2 linked regions of the Homo sapiens genome follow. The protein of the gene in region 1 interacts with the protein of each later gene in a pairwise test. Each region holds a gene or a part of one and is shown in the gene's direction. Other genes may lie near its edges.

Region 1 (3,500 bases):
GTGTGCTCTAATTGATTTCAGAATTTGGCAATGCAGCCACTTCTCTGACAGCAAACCCAGATGCCACCACAGTAAACATTGAGGATCCTGGTGAAACCCCAAAACATCAGCCAGGATCCCCAAGAGGCTCAGGAAGAGAAGAAGATGATGAGTTACTGGGAAATGATGACTCTGACAAAACTGAGGTTTGAACTTGTCTTTGAGATATTTTTTAAACAATTTTTAAAGCTTGTTTATGTGCTTATTCACTGTCTACTGTGTGCCAGGTACAGTGTCAGGCAATGACAGCTCAGAGGTAAATGACACATGGCCTCTTCCTTGGTGGGGGAAACAGGCAAACAGACCATTACTTTCCGTAAGTACACTTGTGGAGGGGAACACTGGGGTAGTGAGCAGAGATCCTAGCTTATGGAATGTGGGACTCCCATGCTCAATATTTTCTAATATTAGAGTAGGAAAGAACCTTCATGGCCCTCTGTTTTAGCCTCTCTCCTGAGATATTGATGCTGTCCTTGCTATGTAGGAAAGATAACACTTGGAGCCAGGCGTGGTGGCTCACGCATATAATCCCAGCATTTTGGGAGGCTGAGGCGGGCAGATCACTTGAGCCCAGGAGTTCGAGACCAGCCTGGGCAACATGGTGAAACTCCACCTCTACAAAAAGTACAAAATATTAGCCGAGTATGGTGGTGGACACCTGTAGCCCCAGCTACTCGGGAAACTAAGGTGGGAGGATTGCTTGAGCTTGGGGAGTAGAGGTTGCAGTGAGCTGAGATTGCACCACTACACTCCAGCCTCGGCAACAGAGTGAGACCCTGTCTCCAGAAGAAAGAAAAAAAAAAAAAGGAAAGATTGAAAACACTTGCTTGAGTACCTCCAGGAATGGGCTGTTTACCACCATGTAAGGCAGTTGCTGCCACTGTCGACTTTAATTGTGAAAATGTTTTTCTTTAATGTTTTTTCTTCGACTTTTATTTTAACTTCAGGGGTCATGTGCAGGAGGTACAGGTTTGTTACATAGGTAAACATGTGCCACAGTGGTTTGCTGCACAGATCACCCCATCACCTAGGTATTAAGCCCAGCATCCATTAGCTCTTCTTCCTGATGCTCCCCCTCCCATGTGTCCATGTGTTCTCACCATTCAGCTCCCACTTATAAGTGAGAAGATGTGGTGTTTGGTTTTCTGTTCCTGTGTTAGTTTGCTAAGGATAATGGCTTCCAACTCCATCCATGTCCCTGCAAAGGACATGATCTCATTCCTTTTTCTGGCTGCGTAGTATTCCATGGTTGTATATATACCATATTTTCTTTATCCAGTCTATCATTGATGGGCATTTAGGTTGATTCCGTATCTTTGCTATTGTGAATAGTGCTGCAGTGAACATAAATGTGCATGTATCTTTATAATAGAATGATTTATATTTCTCTGGGTATATACCCAGTAATGGGATTGCTGGGTCAAATAGTATTTCTGCCTCTAGGTCTTTGAGGAATCGCCACACTGTCTTCCACAATGGTTGAACTAATTTACACTCCCACCAACAGTGTAAAAGCATTCCTTTTTCTCCGCAACTTCACTAGCATCTGTTGTTTCTTGACTTTTTAATAATCACCATTCTGACTGGCATGATATGGTGTCTCATTGTGGTTTTGATTTGCATTTCTCAAATCAAGATATTGAGCTTTCTTTCATATGTTTTTTGGCCACATGTATGTCTTTTGAGAAGTGTCTGTTCATGTCCCTTGCCCACTTTTTAATGGAGTTGTTTTTTCCTTGTAAATTTGCTTAAGTACTTTGTAGACTCTGGATATTAGACCTTTGTTAGATGGATAGATTGCAAAAATTTTCTCTCATTCTGTAGGTTGTCTGTTCACTCTGAAGATAGTTTCTTTTGCTGTGCAGAAGCTCTTTAGTTTAATTAGATCCCATTTGTCAATTTTTGCTTTTGTTGCAATTGCTTTTGGTGTTTTCATCATGAAATCTTTGCCCATGCCTATGTCCTGATTGGTATTCCCTAGATTTTCTTTCTTTTTCTTTTTTTTTTTTTTTTTGAGATGGAGTCTTGCTTTGTCGCCTAGGCTGGAGGCTCATTGCAACCTCCGCCTCCTGGGTTCAAGCGATTCTCCTGCCTCAGCCTCCCAAGCAGCTGGGACTACAGGCACGTGCCACCATGCCCAACTAATTTTTGTATTTTTAGTAGAGACGGGGTTTCACCATATTGGCCAGGCTGGTCTCGAACTCCTTACCTCATGATCCACCCATCTTGGCCTCCCAAAGTGCTGGGATTACAGGCATGAGCCACCGCGCCCAGCTGGTATTCCCTAGATTCTCTTCTAGGGTTTTTTTAGTTTTGTGTTTTACATTTAAGTCTTTAATCCACCTTGAGTTAATTTTTGCTTATGGTATAAGGAAGGGGTCCAGTTTCAGTTTTCTGCATATGGCTAGCCAGTTCTCCCAGCACTATTTATTGAATAGGGAATCCTTTCCCCATTGCTTGTTTTTGTCAGGTTTTTCGAAGATCAGATGGTTGTAGACGTGCATTCTTATTTCTGAGTTCTCTGTTCTGTTTCATTGGTCTATGTGTCTGTTCTTGTACCAGTACCATGCTGTTTTGGTTACTGTAGACTTGTAGTTTAGTTTGAAGTCAGGTAGCATGATGCCTCCAGCTTTGTTCTTTTTGCTTAGGATTGTCTTGACTATTTGGGCTCTCTTTTGATTCCATATGAATTTTAAAATAGTTTTTTTCTAATTCCGTGAAGAATGTCAATGGTAGTTTACTGGGAGTGGCATTGAATCTATAAATTACTTTGGGCAGTATGCCATTTGCACAATACTGATTCTTCCTAACTATGAGCATGGAATGTTTTTCCATTTGTTTGTGTCCTCTCTTATTTCTTTGAGCAGTAGTTTATAGTTTTCTTTGAAGAGGTCCTTTACTTCCCTTGTTCCTAGGTATTTTATTCTTTTTGTAGCAGTTCATTCATACAAAAGAACGAGAGTTCATTCATAATTTGGCCCTCTGCTTGCCTGTTGTCGGTGTATAGGAATACTAACAATTTTTGCACATTGATTTTGTATCCTGAGACTTTGCTGAAGTTGCTTACCAGCTTAAGAAGCTTTTGGGCTGAGATGATGGGGTTTTTTAGATATAGAAACATGTCATCTTGCAAACAAAGGTGATTTGACTTACTCTCTTCCTATTTGAATACCCTCTTCCTATTTGAATACCCTTTATTTGTTTCTCTTCCCTGATTGCCCTGGCCAGAACTTCTAATACTATTGAATAGGAGTGATAAGAGAGGGCATCCATGTCTTGTGCTGGTTTTCAAGGGGAATGCTTTCCTTGGTTGGGGATGGGTGTTCCTTTGTCTCCGTGCTGCTCCTGGGTGAGCCATCGCCCCACCCTGCTTTTCTTCATTCTCCGTGGGTCGAGCTACTTGCCTAGTCAGTCCCAATGCAAGAACCTGGGTATTTCAGTTGAAGGTGCTGAATTCATTC
Region 2 (4,233 bases), on another chromosome or scaffold:
TTTTCTGTCGAAGAGGCATATTTTGCGGTGATATATTCTGGTTTTTTCTTTTTCTTTTTTCATTGAGATGGAGTCTCGCTGTCACCCAGGTTGGAGTGCAATGGCGCGATCTCGGCCCACTGCAACCTCTGCCTCCCGGTTCTCAAGCGGTTTCTCCTGCCTCAGCCTCCCGAGTAGCTGAGATTACAGGCGCCCAAAACTGCACCCGGCTAATTTTTGTATTTTTAGTAGAGATGGGGTTTCGCCACGTTGACCAGGATAGTTTCGAACTCCTGACCTCAGGTGATCTGCCTGCCTCGGCCTCCTACAAGTGCTGGGATTACAGATGTGAGCCACCACACCTGGCCTTATTCTGGTTTTCTTTAGGTGTCTTCATTGAACAAGTAGGTATTGTCTGGCATACCCTTCTGGGTTATCTCGTCTTATGGGGTCTTACTTTTGTCTTTAAGCTATCTAGAGCTCTAGTGGAGCATTGTATATATACCATCATTAATGAGTTAAATGGTATCTTTGACATATGTTCATTTTATATTTGTGTGAGAGTCATAATTTTATTTTAAAAAAAAGATATGCTTTTTTTTTTTTTTTGAGACTGTTCACTCTGTCGCCCAGGCTGGAGTGCAGTGGCTTGATCTCAGCTCACTGCAACCTTCGCCTCCTGGGTTCATGATTCTCCTGCCTCAGCCTCTCGAGTAGCTGCTGGGATTACAGGCGTGCACCACTACATCCGGCTAATTTATGTGTTTTTAATAGAAACGGAATTTCACCATTGTTGTTCAGGCTGGTCTCGAACTCCTGACCTCAAGTGATCAGCCTGCCTTGGCTTCCCAAAGTGCTGGAGTTACAGGCGTGAGCCACCGCGCCCGGCCTTAAAATACATGTTCCTACTTTCAAACACTTAGGGCTTCCTATATGGAAGGGACAGTGGCGGTGCTCTAGTGTCCAAGTCCCTCAAGGAGGAGGCCGGGGGCTCCGCGGACCTCAGGAGTCAGGCCTCCAATCCCCAGTTCAGGGCGCTTTCCTCTTTTCCCAAGTGCTTTCTGGCTCAGCCATTTCCACTCCCGCTCCCTTACTTTCCCATTTCCTTCGGTCACATCCCCGCATATAGTACAGGCCACTGGAGCTGCCTCTGAGACACCGCCGCGGGCGCGGGTACACACTCCGCTAAGGGCATTCCCAACCCGGTTCCGCAGCCTAACGGCGTGGCTTGGACCCTGCTGCAGCCCGTAGCCCCTATCCTTTCTCCTCCGGACTTCAGTTTGGCGGCATCTCTGTCTTAGCGAGAGGGGCTGTGACTAAAAGCTGCCTTTTCTCAATGAACTGCCAGTTTGTAAGAGCCTCCGGGTCCCCTCAAACCGCCTCGAGCGCCCCTCTCCGCGAGAGCTGCGCGGCCGGAACTGCGCCGGCGTGACGTCACTGACCTCGTCGGGTTCACTTCCGGCGCTCGCACCGCCCCGCTCTCCAGCCAAGGCTCCGGGCTGAGGCATTTGCTTGGCTGCAGCCTCCTTCCGACCTGCCCGGCGGGACCCAGGGGACCAAGCCGAGCCGAGCCGCGGGGCCCGCTCCAGCCCGGCCATGAGCGCGGCCGCATGATGCGTCCCTGCCTCGGCCGCTGCAGTCGCCGCCGCCGCCGCCGCAGGCCGGGAGGAGCCGCAGCGCCGGGCGACCCCGCCCGGGCCTCGGGTGAGTGCGGCGGGCTGGGCCGGGCGGGCTGCTCACTCCCGGGTCTCCCGGCCACTTCTGGCCCCCGGCGTGCCCTGTCCTTCCGTCGGTTCCGCCGCTCTGTCTCCACCCCGCCGCACACCTGCGACCTTCTGGAGTTCCTAGGGGCACCTCCGTGCCCGCACCTGACTTCCCTTCCAGGTGCCCCCTTGTCATTCCTTAGTTGCTCTCTCGGGATAGGGCCCGGATTGCAGCCCCAGCTTTTTGCCTGACCTTGGGCGTGACACTCAGCTCTCCGAGCCCTGGTTTTCTGTGTGGCTAATGACGGGGTGGTGGTTACAGAGCAGCTATAAACCCTGTGTAAGCTGTAAAGAGTTTTTTAATAGGCAGGTATTACAATGAGCAGTCTCGCACTTCGCGTTGTGGCTTCTCTTCCTCTTAAGCTGTAAACTTTTCTCTTTTATTCTCTGCCCATCTTCCTAGTTATCTTCCCTCCTGCTCCACGTCAGTCATCTTTGGGTGTTAGTTGCCTGAAAGGGCATCTGGGACAGTAAAGCTTTCAGGGCAGTAAGGCTCACCTCTCCTGGTGTGGTTCCTTCTACAACTTTGTCACACTCAGTTAGATAGACACACTTTATTAGCTTATGAAGAACCAGTTTATTGTGGCCGTTAAATTGGAGTGTAAGAGACAGTGTTGATGCGGCTACCTGCCTTGTAGCTTCTTTTACTGTCTGGGCTGTATACAGTGCTGGGCAAATCGCTGCTACAGTGTTGCATTTTCAGTCTGCTTAGTGTATGCACTTAAGCGCACGTATTTATCTATTTTACTGTTACTATCCCAAGGGGTTTAGAGATTTAGGTCAATGTGTATTAATATTTCTTTCTGAACTCTTCATCTCACAGATGAAGAATCTCTTTTTTGTTATGTTTTACAGTGTTTACATACCTGAAATCACCTTTTAGTCACTTTGTGGCCTGGTACGCACGCGGTGGCTCGTGGCTCATGCCTGTAATCCCAGCGCTTTGGGAGGCTGAGGCAGGAGGATCACTTGAGCCCAGGAGTTGGAGAGCAGCCTGGGCAACATAGTGAGATCCCCTTCTCTACAAAAAAATTAAAAAATTAGCCGGATATGGTGGTACACGCCTGAGGTCTCAGCTGCTTGGGAGGCTGAGGTGGGGGGATCACTTGAGTTTGAGATCATGCCACAGCACTGCAGCCTGGGCAACAGAGTGAGATCCCCATCTCAAAAAAAAAAAAAAAGTCACTTTGTTAAATTCGCTTGTTAAAAGTCAGAACTTGGCCAGGCACAGTGGCTCATGCCTGTGATCCCAGCACTTTGGGAGGCCGAGGCGGGCGGATCACGAAGTCGGGAGATCGAGACCATCCTGGCTAACACGGTGAAACCCCATGTCTACTAAAAATACCAAAAATTAGCTGGGCATGGTGGTGGGCGCCTGTAGTCCCAGCTACTCGGGAGGCTAAGGCAAGAGAATCACGTGAACCCGGGAGGCGGAGCTTGCAGTGAGCCAAGATCGCGCCACTGCACTCCAGTCTGGGCGACAGAGCAAGACTCCGTCTCAAAAAAAAAAAAAAAAAGAAAAAAAGTCAGAACTTGGTTAAAGTGAAAGGCTCTTGGGATATTTGAAATATGGAATGGAACTGAAATATTAACTAAATTGCAATTCTTGAACATTCTGGAAAATAGGTTAGGGGCCCACATTGGCTTCTGATTTGAGAGTTGAAGGAGAAGAAGACTATTTGAAAAGGTAATTCCCAAAGGATTCGCTAAGTAACAATGGGAACTCTTCTGCTACCATTGGCTCAGAGCCTGCCTCAGTTGACAGATTAATGAATTGAAACTTTACAGCCCTGCTAATCAATGAACTGTAAAAACAAATCCTCTTCAAGAACAGAAGAGTATTAGCATGAATAGAATGGCCCTCTCAGTGAGAAAGAAAGCACTGAAATGAACTTTATATAAGAACAATCTTGATTCAGTCAAAAGTATGAACGTACTTTTACATTCTTACTGAAACTTACCTGCTGGCTTGGATGCTTTGTTGATATAAATAATACAATCTTTGTTAAATTAACAAAGAAAATGGGTGTAGAAATAAGTTCATGTAGAAAGTTAATGTTTGGGATGAACATTGAATAGTTTTCGTGATTGGACAACTATACAAGATAATTTTACTAAAGCAGCTTTTTGGGGTATGTTTCTGTAATATTTTAACTTTAGAAGTACTTTTTTTTTTTTTTTGAGACGGAGTTTCGCTCTTGTTGCCCAGGCTGGAGTGCAGTGGCTCGATCTTGGCTCCCTGCAGCCTCTACCTCCTGGGTTAAAGCGATTCTCCTGCCTCAGCCTCCCGAGTAGCTGGGATTACAGGCCTGAGCCACCGTGGCTGGCTAATTTTGTATTTTTAGTAGAGACAGGATTTCTCCATGTTGGTCAGGCTGGTCTCCAACTCCTGACCTCTGGTGATCCGCCTGCCTCAGCCTCCCAGAATGGTGGGATTACAGGCGTGAGCCACTGTGCCTGACCCTTTTTTTTTTTCTTCAAACCCTAGAGC

Evidence for each region. The genes of interacting proteins can lie anywhere in the genome.
Region 2: the proteins of YIPF1 (region 1) and ZDHHC7 interact in binary tests that used the Homo sapiens proteins (3 or more experiments, as listed by UniProt).

The regions. Positions count from the first base shown.
Region 1 is NC_000001.11:53,879,798-53,883,297, reverse strand, and holds part of YIPF1 (protein YIPF1), read left to right. Parts: intron 1-21; coding exon 22-185; intron 186-3,500.
Region 2 is NC_000016.10:85,008,736-85,012,968, reverse strand, and holds the start of ZDHHC7 (palmitoyltransferase ZDHHC7), read left to right. Parts: upstream 1-1,433; 5' UTR 1,434-1,683; exon of another isoform or gene 1,684-1,863; intron 1,864-4,233.